Linked DNA regions of Homo sapiens: all the other regions are linked to region 3. Evidence: fine-mapped expression QTL. A gene starts in region 3. Each other region holds a variant in brackets. All regions are shown on one strand. Distances are between the middles of the regions.

Region 1 (4,035 bases), 35 kb after region 3:
GGTCTCCCTTATGTATTTCTGCCATGGTTGGCTCAGTTGAACTCACCTTTTGAACAAGACTTGGCCTTGGCCACCCAGAGGCCCCTGGCCAAGAGCTTGACTCCTGGCACGGCCACTGACACATCCATGTTTGGTGCACACATGGCTGGGCAGCCCCGAGACCGGCTCTGCCTGGGCCTCTCATTGGTGGCATTGCTCGCATTTGTCCCCTCCCAAGTCTGGCCTATTTATGAGCCTCATCACACCTCGGCATGAAGAAGGAGGTTTGGCAAATAACCCATAAAGCATCTTTTAAAAGGTTAATGGTCACTGTTGTGGGGAGAAAGGGCCACTGAGCTTGGATGCTCTCTTTGCTGATGTGGTTTTCTCAATTAAGTGAAAATAAAGAGCCATGCCTCTTTGCACGTACCTGGTCTGATTACCAAGCAGCCCAGGAGGCCTCGGGGTGTCTTGGAAGCTGGAACCATCAGCCCTGTGTGAACTACAGGCGCTTCTATATAAGCTGCTCCCAGGTGAGGGGAGCGGGTCAGGTGATCCCAAGCTCCGCTTCCTGCTCGACATGAGTGAGCTGTGTGTGCAGAGTTGGTTGTGGAGGAATCCCACGGTCTGGCCAGTCACCTGCAGGAGGGCAGGGTTGATGCTGTTCTCATATTCATCATCCACAGTGCCTGGCACTTGCTCCAGGCCATGGCAGGCGTACAGGTGTCCAACTGATCTTAGATAATGAGGGACCTGCTCCGCAGCCCTGAGGGTAGGAGGGAAGTCAGCTTGAGAGCTTTCCTGGGTCATGCCTCACCTAACTTACATGGCGTTTCCAGGAGAGAGGGCTACTGGCGGTGTCTGTGTATCAGTCAGGATGAGTAACAGCAGCTGCTACAACAACAGCTCCCAACGCTCAGAGGGATGCACACGAGGATTCTTTCCTGCTCTTGTCACAGTCTCACGACACTAAAGATATGTGTCAGTCCACCTGCATTGCTATAAAGGAATACCTGAGGCTGGGTTAATTAGGGGTGGGGCAGTTCCCCTGAAAGGACTGTTAGGAGACAAGTACCTGTGACTGTGATGTGCATCTTGCAAAGTCCTAAAGGGAAGTGGGTCAAATTAGCTTTCTCCAGCAGACAGGGAGGGGCACCCACGGCAAAATCCCTTCACCTGGGAGCAGGTGTGGTCCTTGAGTCCTATGTTGCCTGTTTCTTCCTCCATCTTGACCTGCAGGCCTGATGTGATCTGACCTCTGCCTGCCTCTCTGACTCCATCTCCCCTCCCGCTCCTGTTCTTTCTACCAATTAGGTTACAGCCTCGGTGAATGTGACAAGGACCCTGAATCACGGTGGCTTAACTAAGACAGAGGTTCATTCCCTTCACATGAAAGTCCAAGGCAGTCGGGAGATTCTTCTCTATGCAGTTTTTAGGGTCTTAGCCTCCTTCCATCTTGCTGTTCTGACTTCCTTAGGGTGTAGCTTCCCCCTGAGAGTCCACCCTGTCTCCTGCCAGCCAGCAGGGAGAGGAGAAGGGGACAACAGGGCACAAAACTTCCTTCCT[C/G]TAAAGGCAGCCGCTGTGCACAGGCCTCGCCTCCCCATTGGCCACAGCCTGGTCACATGGCCACTGCTTGCTGCAAGGGATGCTGGGAAGTGTAGTCTTCATCCTGGATGCCAGTGCCCACATGGGTCCCTCCTGAGGCCGAGGGGAGAGAGGACATGGGAGAGAGTTTCTGGTCTCCCCCGCCCTGGGGTCAGGGTTGACTCCCCGGGTGATGGTTGTTCTTGTGTGTTGACTGCGTCTACACATCAGTTCCACTATATTGTGTGTCTGTTCTGGTGAGGTCTGGATGCCTCCAGGCCTGAGCAGGAGAAACCAGCAACAGGATTTGTTTTGTTTTGCTGAATCTAGGATCACATTGTTGCAGGAAGTAGCTGGCAGCTAATGATGGCTGTTGCTGGGGGATCTGCTGGCCTGTAAACCAGGGTGTTCATGTGGCTGCTTGGGCTTCCTTTCAACATGGCTGCCTCTGAGCAGTTGTACTTCTCATGTGCCAGTGGACTTCGAAGACACAGGAAGTAGCAGTCTCCAGGCCAGTTTAGCAGTTTCCAGCAGTTTCCAGGCCACTCCCGAACTGGCACAGCATCCCTTCCACTGTATTCAATTGGCCAAAGTATAACAGTAAAACAGTAGAACTAACATAACTCACTCCGTTTGTGTTCAAGGGGCCTTTACCCATCCTGCACGTAGGCTAGGATAATTTCGGAGCACTGAGATAATATGGAAAAACAGTAATCATGTAGTTTTAAAAACTAACTCTGAGGTTGAAAGTATATAAACAACTAACAATATTTTATTAAATATGTGTAAAAGCATTGCGACCTGACTAAGGACAAAGAAGTTCCCAACCTCCTCAGACTTGCTGGTGCCCAGATGTCTGAGATGTCTGTGCTCATAGGCCACTTCTTTTTTTTTTTTTTTTTTTTTTGACAAGGTCTATCACCCAGGCTGGAGTGCAGTGGTGCCATCTCGGCTCACTGCAACCTCCACCTCCTGGGCTCAAGTCATCCTCCAACCTCAGCCTTCTGAGTAGCTGGGACTACAGGTGCACACCACCATGCTAGGCTAATTTTTGTATTTTTTGTAGAGACAGGGTTTTACCATGTTGCCCAGGCTGGTCTCGAACTTGTGAGCTCAAGTGGTCCACCTGCCCTGGCCTCCCAAAGTGCTGGGATTACAGGTTTGAGCCACCCCACCCAGATGTAGGTCACCTCTTTTTGAGACGGAGTCTTGCTCTGTCACCCAGGCTGGAGTGCAATGGCACCATCTCAGCTCACTGCAACCTCTGCCTCCTGTGTTCAAGTGATACTCCTGCCTCAGCCTCCAGAGTAGCTGGGAATACAGGCATGCGCCACTATGCCCGGCTAATTTTGTATTTTTAGTAGAGACGGTGTTTCTCCATGTTGGTCAGGCTGGTCTCGAACTCCCGACCTCAGATGATCTGCTCGCCTCGGCCTCCCAAAGTGGGAGTGTTGGGATTACAGGCGTGAGCCACCGCACCCGACTGTAGATCACTTCTTGATCCTAACCACCTTCTCTTTCTCTGCCCTTAACATAAAAAGAGCTTGAAATTTGTACCCACCTGAGATGGCACATTAGGACTCTAGTCCACCATCTTCTTGGTTTGCTGGCTGTCTGAATAAATTGCTTTCTTCCCACCAACTCCTGTCTCTTGAGTTTTGGCTTTTGAGCAGCTGAATGTGTGTTCGGTTACAAAAGCAGTCACAAGGTGCCCCTCCCGCCAAGATTTAAGGGGTGGAGAATTAAACTGTCACTTTGAAGAAGAGAGTTCAGGACTGCCCCTTCCACCCAAGACAGCAAACGGGCCAGTCCTTGAGCAGGTAGATGGGGAGGGGAGGTGGCAGAGCAGCCTGAGAGCTACAGCAGAGTGCTGGTGGGGAGGACCATGGGAGGGACCACAGACTCAAGAACTGTGTTGAGAAGGATTTCCAGGAGGCTGGGAATGGGCCTGTCTTCCCTGAAATTAGTATTTAGAGAGAATCTGGAAGAAAACCATGCTCTCAGAGTTAGGCTTTGGTGTGGAAATCAAACCTTTGCCTGCTACACTGTTTTCTTTTTTTTTTTTCTTTTTTCTTTTTTTTTGACACAGAGTCTTGCTCTGTCACCCAGGCTGGAGAGTGCAGTTGGCACTATCTTGGCTCACTGCAACCTCCGCCGCCTGGGTTCAAGTGATTCTCTTGCCTCAGCCTCCCCAGTAGCTGGGATTACAGGTGCCCACTACTATGTCCAGCTAATTTTTTTATATGTTTTTAGTAGAGACGAGGTTTCACCATGTTGGTCAGGCTGGTCTCGAACTCCTGATCCCAAAGTGCTGGGATTACAGGCGTAAGCCACCACGCCTGGCTAATTTTTTTGTATCTTTTTAGTAGAGACGGGGTTTCTCCATGTTGGTCAGGCTGGTCTCGACCTCCTGACCTCAGGTGATCTGCCCACCTTGGCCTCCCAAAGTGCTGGGATTACAGGCGTCAGCCA
Region 2 (4,035 bases), 29 kb after region 3:
ATTTTTTTAGTAGAGACAGGGTTTCACTCTGTTAGCCAGGATGGTCTCAATCTCCTGACCTCGTGATCCACCCACCTTGGCCTCCCAAAGTGCTGGGATTACAGGCGTGAGCCACCGTGCCCAGCCGGCCTCACAAGTCTTAACCCTGTCACTTGGGTTAAAACCCTCGGAAGTTCCGCTATCGTAAATTTCGTGTTAATGCTTCTGTCTGTTGTCAGTCTGCAGCTGTACCCAACAGCTCCGAAGAGACAGCGACCATCGAGAATGGGCCATGATGATGATGGTGGTTTTGTCAAAAAGAAAAGGGGGAAATGTGGGGGAAAGAGAGGTCAGACTGTTACTGTGTCTATGTAGAAAAAGGAAGACATAAGAAACTCCATTTTGATCTGTATTAAGAAAAATTCTTCTGCTTTGACATGCTGTTAATCTGTAACCTTAGCCCCAACCCTGTACTCACAGAAACATGTGCTGTGTTAACTCAAGGTTTGAGGGATTTAGGGCTATACAGCATGTGCTTTGTTAACAATGTGTTTGCAGGCAGTATGCTTGGTAAAAGTCATCGCCATTCTCCATTCTCCATTAACCAGGGACACAGTGCACTGCGGAAAGCCGCAGGGACCTCTGCCCAAGAAAGCCTGCGTATTGTCCAGGTCTCCCCCCACTGAGACAGCCTGAGATATGGCCTCATGGGAAGGGAAAGACCTGATCGTCCCCCAGGCTGACACCCATAAAGGGTCTGTACTGAGGAGGATTAGTGAAAGAGGAAGGCCTCTTTGCAGTTGAGATAAGAGGAAGGCATCTGTCTCCTGCTCATCCCTGGGAATGGAATGTCTTGGTGTAAAGCCCAATCATACATTCTGTTTACTGAGATAGGAGAAAACTGCCCCATGGCTGGAGGTGAGACATGCTGGCGGCAATACTGCTCTTTACTGCACTGAGAGGTTTGTGTAAAGTCAGACATAAACCTGGCCTACGTGCACATCCAGGCACAGCACCTTTCCCTAAACTTATTTATGACACAGAGTCCTTTGCTCATGTTTTCCTGCTGACCCTCTGCCCACCATTACCCTATAGTCCTGCCATGTCCCCCTCACCGAGATAGTAGAGCTAGTGATCAATAAATACTGAGGAACTCAGAGACCAGCGTCGGTGCAGTTCCTCACTTGCTGAGTGCCGGTCCCCTGGGCCCACTTTTCTTCCCTTATACTTTGTCTTTGTGTCTTATTTGTTTTCTCAGTCTCTCATCTCCACCTGGTGAGAAATACCCGCAGGTGTGGAGGGGCAGGTCCCCTTCATAATTTCATAAGACTATAACTAGAGCTATGCTAAAGCTTCATATTTCATGAGGGCATCTAAAATGCCTATCCAAAGAACAGGTGCTTCTCTTCTTCTATCCATTTATGCGGTAGTTTTCATGCATTTCTGGCTGAATGTCACAGACAAAAGCCAAGAGGTTATCCCAGACTTCATCCCTGTTGTGAGGAAAGTAGGTCTGGAGGATGGTCATCTTCTCCTGGGTCTCCTTCTCCACTTTGGTGCTGCCAGTGCCATGGATTCCAGTGCCGCAGCTTCCTTGGCTTTCAACTCTTTCTCCCTCTGCAGGTGGTACTGTTCAATTTCAGCCTGAGCTGCTTCTTTGGCCTGTGTCAGCCTCCAGTTCTTTCTTTTTTTTTTGAGACGGAGTCTCGCTCTGTGGCCCAGGCTGGAGTGTAGTGGCAGCGATCTTGGCTCACTGCAACCTCTACCTCCCAGGTTCAAACAATTCTCTGCCTCAGCCTCCTGAGTAGCTGGGACTACAGGTGCATGCCAGCATGTTGCAGGAAGTCAGGGACCCCGAATGGAGGGACCAGCTGGAGCCGCAGCAGAAGAACACAAATTGTGAAGATTTCATGGACATTTGTCAGTTCCCAAATAATACTTTTACAATTTCTTATGCCTGTCTTTACTTTAGTCACTTACTCCTGTTATCTTTGTAAACTGAGGATGTAAGTCACCTCAGGACCACTGTGATAATTGTGTTAACTGTACAAATTGATTGTAAAACATGTATGTTTGAACAATATGAAATCAGTGCACCTTGAAAAAGAACAGAATAACAGCAATGTTTAGGGAACAAGGGAAGACAACCATAAGGTCTGACTGCCTGCAGGTTCGGGCAAAAAAAGCCATATTTTTCTTCTTGCAGAGAGCCTATAAATGGACATGCAAGTAGGAGAGA[C/T]GGGGAGGAGATGGTGTTGTTGTTCTAGTTTGAGGGTCGCAGAGCTGGAGACCTGAGGAGGAGCCGGTGTTGATCTAGTTTGAGCATTGGGGAGCTGGAGACCCTGGAGGAGCTGGTGTTGATCCAGTTTGAGGGTCGGGGAGCTGGAGACCTGAGGAGGAGCCGGTGTTGATCTAGTTTGAGGGTTGGGGAGCTGGAGACCCTGGAGGAGCTGGTGTTGATCTAGTTTGAGCATTGGGGAGCTGGAGACCCTGGAGGAGCCAGTGTTGATCTAGTTTGAGCGTTGGGGAGCTGGAGACCCTGGAGGAGCTGGTGTTGATCTAGTTTGAGGGTCACGGAGCTGGAGGCCTGGGGAGGAGCCAGTGTTGATCCAGTTTGAGGGTCGGGGAGCTGGAGACCCTGGAGGAGCTGGTGTTGATCCAGTTGGAGGGTCACGGAGCTGGAGACTGAGGAGGAGCCAGTGTTGATCCAGTTTGAGGGTCGGGGAGCTGGAGACCCTGGAGGAGCCAGTGTTGATCCAGTTTGAGGGTCGGGGAGCTGGAGACCCTGGAGGAGCCGGTGTTGATCCAGTTTGAGAGTTGGGGAGCTGGAGACCCTGGAGGAGCTGGTGTTGATCCAGTTTGAGGGTCGGGGAGCTGGAGACTCTGGAGGACCTGGTGTTGATCCAGTTTGAGGGTCGGGGAACTGGAGACCCTGGAGGAGCTGGTGTTGATCCAGTTTGAGGGTCGGGGAGCTGGAGACTGAGGAGGAGCCGGTGTTGATCCAGTTTGAGGGTCACGGAGCTGGAGACTGAGGAGGAGCCGGTGTTGATCCAGTTTGAGGGTTGGGGAGCTGGAAACCCTGGAGGAGCCGGTGTTGATCCAGTTTGAGGGTCGGGGAGCTGGAGACCCTGGAGGAGCTGGTGTTGATCCAGTTTGAGGGTTGGGGAGCTGGAGACCTGGGAGGAGCTGGTGGTGTTGTTCTAGTTTGAGGTTCACAGAGCTGGAGACCTGGGGAGGAGATGGTGTTGTTCTAGTTTGAGGATTGCAGAGCTGGAGGCCTGGGGAGGAGCCAGTGTTTTTCTAGTTTGAGGGTCCTGGACCTGGAGATTTGAGGAGGAGCTGGTGTTGTTCTAGTTTGAGGTTAGTGGAGCTGGAGAATCGGGGTGGTGCCAGTGTTTTCTAGTTTGAGGGTTATGGAGCTGGAGACCAGGGGAGAAGCTGGTGGTGGTGTTCTAGTTTAAGGGTCATGGAGCTGGAGGCCTGGGGAGGAGCCAGTGTTGTTCTAGTTTGAGGGTCGTGGAGCTGGAGAACTGAGGAGGAGCTGGTGTTGTTCTAGTTTGAGAGTCATGGAACTGGAGACTTGGAGAGGAGCTGGTGTTATTCTAGTTTGAGGGTTGTGGAGCTGGAGACCAGAGAAGGAGCTGGTGTTGTTCTAATTATAGGGTCATGGAACTGGAGAATCAGGGAGGTGCCAGCGTTGTTCTAGTTTGAGGGCTGTGGAGCTGGAGACCTGGGGAGAAGCTGGTGTTGTTCTAGTTTGAGCGTTGTGGAACTGGAGACCCAGGGAGAAGCTGGTGGTGTTGTTCTAGTTTGAAGGTGGTGGAGCTGGAGACCTGGGGAGAGGCTGGTGCTGCTGTTGTAGTTTGAGGGTCATGGAACTGGAGGCGGGGAGGAGCCGGTGCTGTTGCGCTTCATGTCTGAGGGTTATATAGCTGGAAACCCAGGGAGAAGCCGGTATTACCGCTTTTAAAGTCTGAAGGTCGTGGAGCCTGAGGCCCAGGGAGGAGCCGGTGCTGCTCTTCAAATGGACCCTCCCGAGGTCTCCAGCTCCATGAC
Region 3 (4,035 bases):
CTTTCTATTCTAACACAGAAACTCAAAAGTTTTAAAATTGCATGTTATTCAGCTATAAAGATAACATCTTTCTAAAATGTAATTTAGGTACAAATTCAAATTTCTCTCTGTCTCACCACCTTTCATTCAGTTCTAGGAGATCATAACCTGTTCTCCAAGTACTGGAGACTGGCTTTTCTCCTCTGGAAGGACCCCATTGCCCTTTTTAGTCACACTCGCCCAGGACCACACAGGGGTGGTCCTGGTGCATGAGGTGGACCTTGCCCAGGACCCTCGGGGAGCCTTTTCAGAAGGTGAACAGTTTCCAGGTCCAGGCCTGATTTCCCAGGGACTAATACTGAGCTTAGCCAATACTGTAAGCAATAAAATTAAATAAAGGATCCAAACGCAGAGTCTAAAAACTGGCGTAAACTCAGTTATTTTGACTCAATATTCTCTTCTCCGAATGCCAGCTATGTATAAAGTTTCAATTATAACACATTTAAAATCAGCTTTTATTTTTATTCAAAATGCACCACTTTATTTTCCTTACCAGACAGCCAAGCATTAAGCACGTTCCAGTCACGTGACTTCTTCAGCGAGCCCCCAGGCTTCCACTCCACGGGAGTCTGGGAGCTCCTGGACAGAGGAGTCCTGAGATTTCAAATAGTCAAGCCTTCTCCCCAGCCACAAGTTCCTTTGATGCTTGGGTTACTGAACACAAACGCAATGGATTGTTTGTCTTCAACATAATCCGTTTCTGTTCCTAAACGTGTTGGCTGCGCTTTCTTTCTGATGAGCACGCTGACTCTAATTTGAACTTCATCAAAATCTTCTTTGTCGTCGTATGTTCTAGAGTATAAGAAAAGCCAATACGGCCCTTGGTTCGGACATCAACTTTCTTTTAAATTTTTTTTTCGTATTTTTAGTAGAGACGGTGTTTCACTATGTTGGCCAGGCTGGTCTCGAATTCCTGACCTCGTGATCTGCCCGCCTTGGCCTCCCAAAGTGCTGGGATTACAGGCATGAGCCACCGTGCCCGGCCCGGACACCAACTTTCATACCTAGATGCTCAGACTTATCTTTAAGAAGTTGTTTTATCTTGCTTACTGCTAAAGGTGTCTGGGTGAGGGTGGCCCGAGTGGTCTGCAGCTTCCTCTTGCTCACAGGCCGGGGGACTAAGGAAGGCGACATCTTCACTGTCCTCCTGGACTAGCTCCAGCCCCAGGAACTACGGCCTCTCTCCGTGCACACGGCACGCGAATTCATGAACTTGCTTTTAAACCTGCACAAGAGTCTTTCTGATCATTAGTTCTTAAAATTCTACATTACCATGGAAATATCACGGAGGCTCTAAGGCTCCCCTTAAAGTGACCAAAAAACTGGATAGGCGTAGCGTCCTAAAACCTCATAGAAACATACGGAAATGGCTAAGAGGGAAGCAATGTCAAAACAGGGAACCACATAAAAGCTTTCAAAAACTACTGGGAAAGAGCCCGCAAGATGGAAAAACTCATAAGAGGTCGAGGACAATTTACACAATTTATAACAAAGGAATGGAGCGTCCCAGGCACTCAGGAGTCCGTAAATGACTCCTCCTTCCTACGAGAAATGGGATGTCTCCTACAGTCGCAAGTCAGCCCGTGCCTTCTGGAGCTTTTCTAGATACGTCTCTTACAAACGCTTCTTTTAAAAAAAAAGGCGAGAATGTGTGGCGTAGCTAATATTCTGTCTTCAAACTCAGTAGGAAGTCAACAAAGAAAAATCCCGCTGAAAGCGCCAAGGCCGGCTGGGTTCCCCGCACCTCCTGCAGGTGAGTGGTGCCCGGGGCTGGGCACCGTGGAGCGTCGGGGGCGCGGCGCCCCGGGCCGGCGGGCCCTGCTTGGCATTATGTAATCACCCCCGGGCCGGGCAGCCGGGCCAACCCCGCCGCCGCCGACCCGCTCCACTGCACAGCGCGGCGGGAGCGACACGCGGCAGGCGAGTGCGGCTGGGAAACGACCCGCGGCTCGGGGGCCGCGAGGACCCGGCCCTGGCCTGGCCTCTCCTCGCGTCCCCTGGCCCGCGCCCCCGCTCCCGGAGCGCCCGGCGGGCCCAGCGCACCCCACAACCGGCAAGCAGGTGAGACCGACACCCACCACCGCGCGGCGCCCGGGGCCTGGGTTCGGAGACCCGCGCGGCGCTCCCGCGCCCCCCCGGCCCGCCGCACTCACTGTTGTACTGCACCCCCTTGGCGAAGCGCCTCTGCAACGCCTGGTTCATGGACTGCAGCCCGGCGGGGATGTTCTTGTCCCGGCCCGGGGCCTGGTCCGACCCCACCAGCTTCTTCAGGGCGGAAAACATCTTCCCGCTCGGACGTCCCAGCCCGGGCGCGGCCGGCGAGCTCAGCGGCGGCGGGGAAGGGGTGCGACTGGCACCATGTCCCGGCGGCCCCGGCCCCCCCGGAGGCCGGAGCCGGCGCGGCCAGAGGCCGGGGTCCCGGCGGCGGAGCGCAGCCCCGAGCGGCGACTCGGGAACCTCAGCCGCGGCTGCTCCGCTCCGGCCCCCGCGGCCTCCGGCGCGACCGCTCTCCAGGAGTCAGCGCCGCCATCTTGGCGCCGGCTCGGCGGGACGGGAGGGGTGCGCGGCTACGGGGCGCCGCGAGGGCCGCGGGGGCGCGGCGCGCGCGGTCGGCGCATGCGCACGCGGTTCTGGCGCGCAGTTCCGGGCCCGGGCTGCCTCCTTACGCAGAACCTCCCCCGATCCTGCGTGTCCCGTGCTCCTCTCCGAGACCCCGGTCGCCCCAGCGTCCGCAGCAGTCCTGGAAAAATGTTTATTTGTGTAGCAAAGCAGGGAGCGGGGCGGCGGGGCTACTTCTTCTTTTTCTTGGCCGCCTTGAGCTTCCCCTCGATTAGCCGCTGCGCCTGCCTCTTGATCTCGGCGCGCGAAGGGACGTAGCTGTGGTCCATGTCGGGGAACTGGAAGGTGTCTGCGGGCGGAGGCGGCGGCTCGCACACGGGGCTAGCCCAGCTAGGCGCAGCCGCCCGACCCGCCTCTCGCCCCCGCCCTCCACCGACCCGGGCCAGGTGCCTTGCCCCAGGGACAGCCCCAGCGTGCCGGGAGGACTCAGCCCAGCCCATTCGCAGCGGCTCACGCTGCCCTGCCTAGCCTTTCCCGCAGAACCCCCAGTGGAAGCTCCGGCCCAGGCCTTCACCGCGCTCCTCCCTGCTCCAGCCCTGGTGCCTCTCCTCCGGGCCCGTCTGGCATGGCATGCCTCCTCCTTTCGGAGAAATTAACAAGGTATTTCAGTGGCTTTAGCCTCCCCATGGCATCACTAAGTCACCTCCATCAATTAAAGTCCTGCAGGTACAACTGATGCACCCTGTAGCCCCGCTGTCCCTCCAGGATGTCCCGGTGGGATGGGAGCCGGCGCCACCCCGACCTGTGTTCCAGCCACCCGCCTGCAGCCCGGGCCCCAGTTCCGGGGCCTGTACCGATCATATCCTCCTCCCGGTTCTCAAAGCTGATCCTGGTGTTGTACTTCTCCATCAGAGTCGAGGACTCCAGGGTGTCCCTCACCTTTGTGTCGCCCTGCAGGGCAAAGCCCCCTTCAGCCGTGCAGACACTCTGAACGGGAGCCTGTCAGCTTTGAGGGGACGTGGGCTGTGCAGGTTCCTCCCAGCCCGGGGCTACCTCCTCGGTCCTGGACACCATCTGCACTCTGTCAGCCAGGTACGTGAGCTTCCCCTCGCAGTACGCCAGCTTGCTGTTCAAATCGAGGGTGTTGGAGAGCACCACTTCTCTCTGTAGGCCGGGAGGAGGGTCTCATCTCCCCTCTGGCCCTGCCCAGGGACCTGGTGTGTGGCAGCTCAGCCTCACTCCCGGTACCTGGGTCGCAGGCAAGTTAATGCCCATCAGCCGGACATAGAGGTTGTCGATGCCCATCTGGATGGTCAGCAGCAGCTCCTGGCCCTTGGTCATGTTGCTGTGCGCCAGCTGGAGCCTCTCTTCTTCCTCTTTTAGCATGTCTGTCATTTTCTTCTCAACGGACTTGAAGCTGCAGAAGGCAATAGGGAC

What was found.
Region 1: its variant is fine-mapped to the expression of CCDC183-AS1 in testis (GTEx, PIP above 0.99).
Region 2: its variant is fine-mapped to the expression of CCDC183-AS1 in sun-exposed skin (GTEx, PIP 0.94).

What each region holds. Positions count from the first base shown.
Region 1 is chr9:136,771,459-136,775,493 of GRCh38, reverse strand. No RefSeq gene overlaps it. Among named protein-coding and RNA genes, the nearest start is that of LCN15, 9.0 kb to the right of the region's middle. RefSeq lists an enhancer at 1,443-1,737. The variant C/G (reference allele first, on the strand shown) is at 1,546.
Region 2 is chr9:136,777,574-136,781,608 of GRCh38, reverse strand. It overlaps the pseudogene ATP6V1G1P3. Among named protein-coding and RNA genes, the nearest start is that of TMEM141, 12 kb to the left of the region's middle. The variant C/T (reference allele first, on the strand shown) is at 2,219.
Region 3 is chr9:136,806,484-136,810,518 of GRCh38, reverse strand. It overlaps CCDC183-AS1 (CCDC183 antisense RNA 1), which reads left to right and starts at 1,671. Exons shown (of 5, transcript NR_024580.1): 1 at 1,671-1,792; 2 at 3,317-3,690; 3 at 3,982-4,035. CCDC183 (coiled-coil domain containing 183) reads right to left here. Exons shown (of 14, transcript NM_001039374.5): 11 at 3,847-4,015; 12 at 3,652-3,762; 13 at 3,453-3,549; 14 at 2,778-2,947. The coding sequence ends at 2,829. RABL6 (RAB, member RAS oncogene family like 6) reads right to left here and starts at 2,571. Exons shown (of 15, transcript NM_024718.5): 1 at 2,193-2,571. The coding sequence starts at 2,322. It also overlaps the pseudogene LOC100422233. RefSeq lists silencers at 1,760-2,289, 2,300-2,429, 2,450-2,509, 2,560-2,729, 2,930-3,159 and enhancers at 2,435-3,031, 3,032-3,627.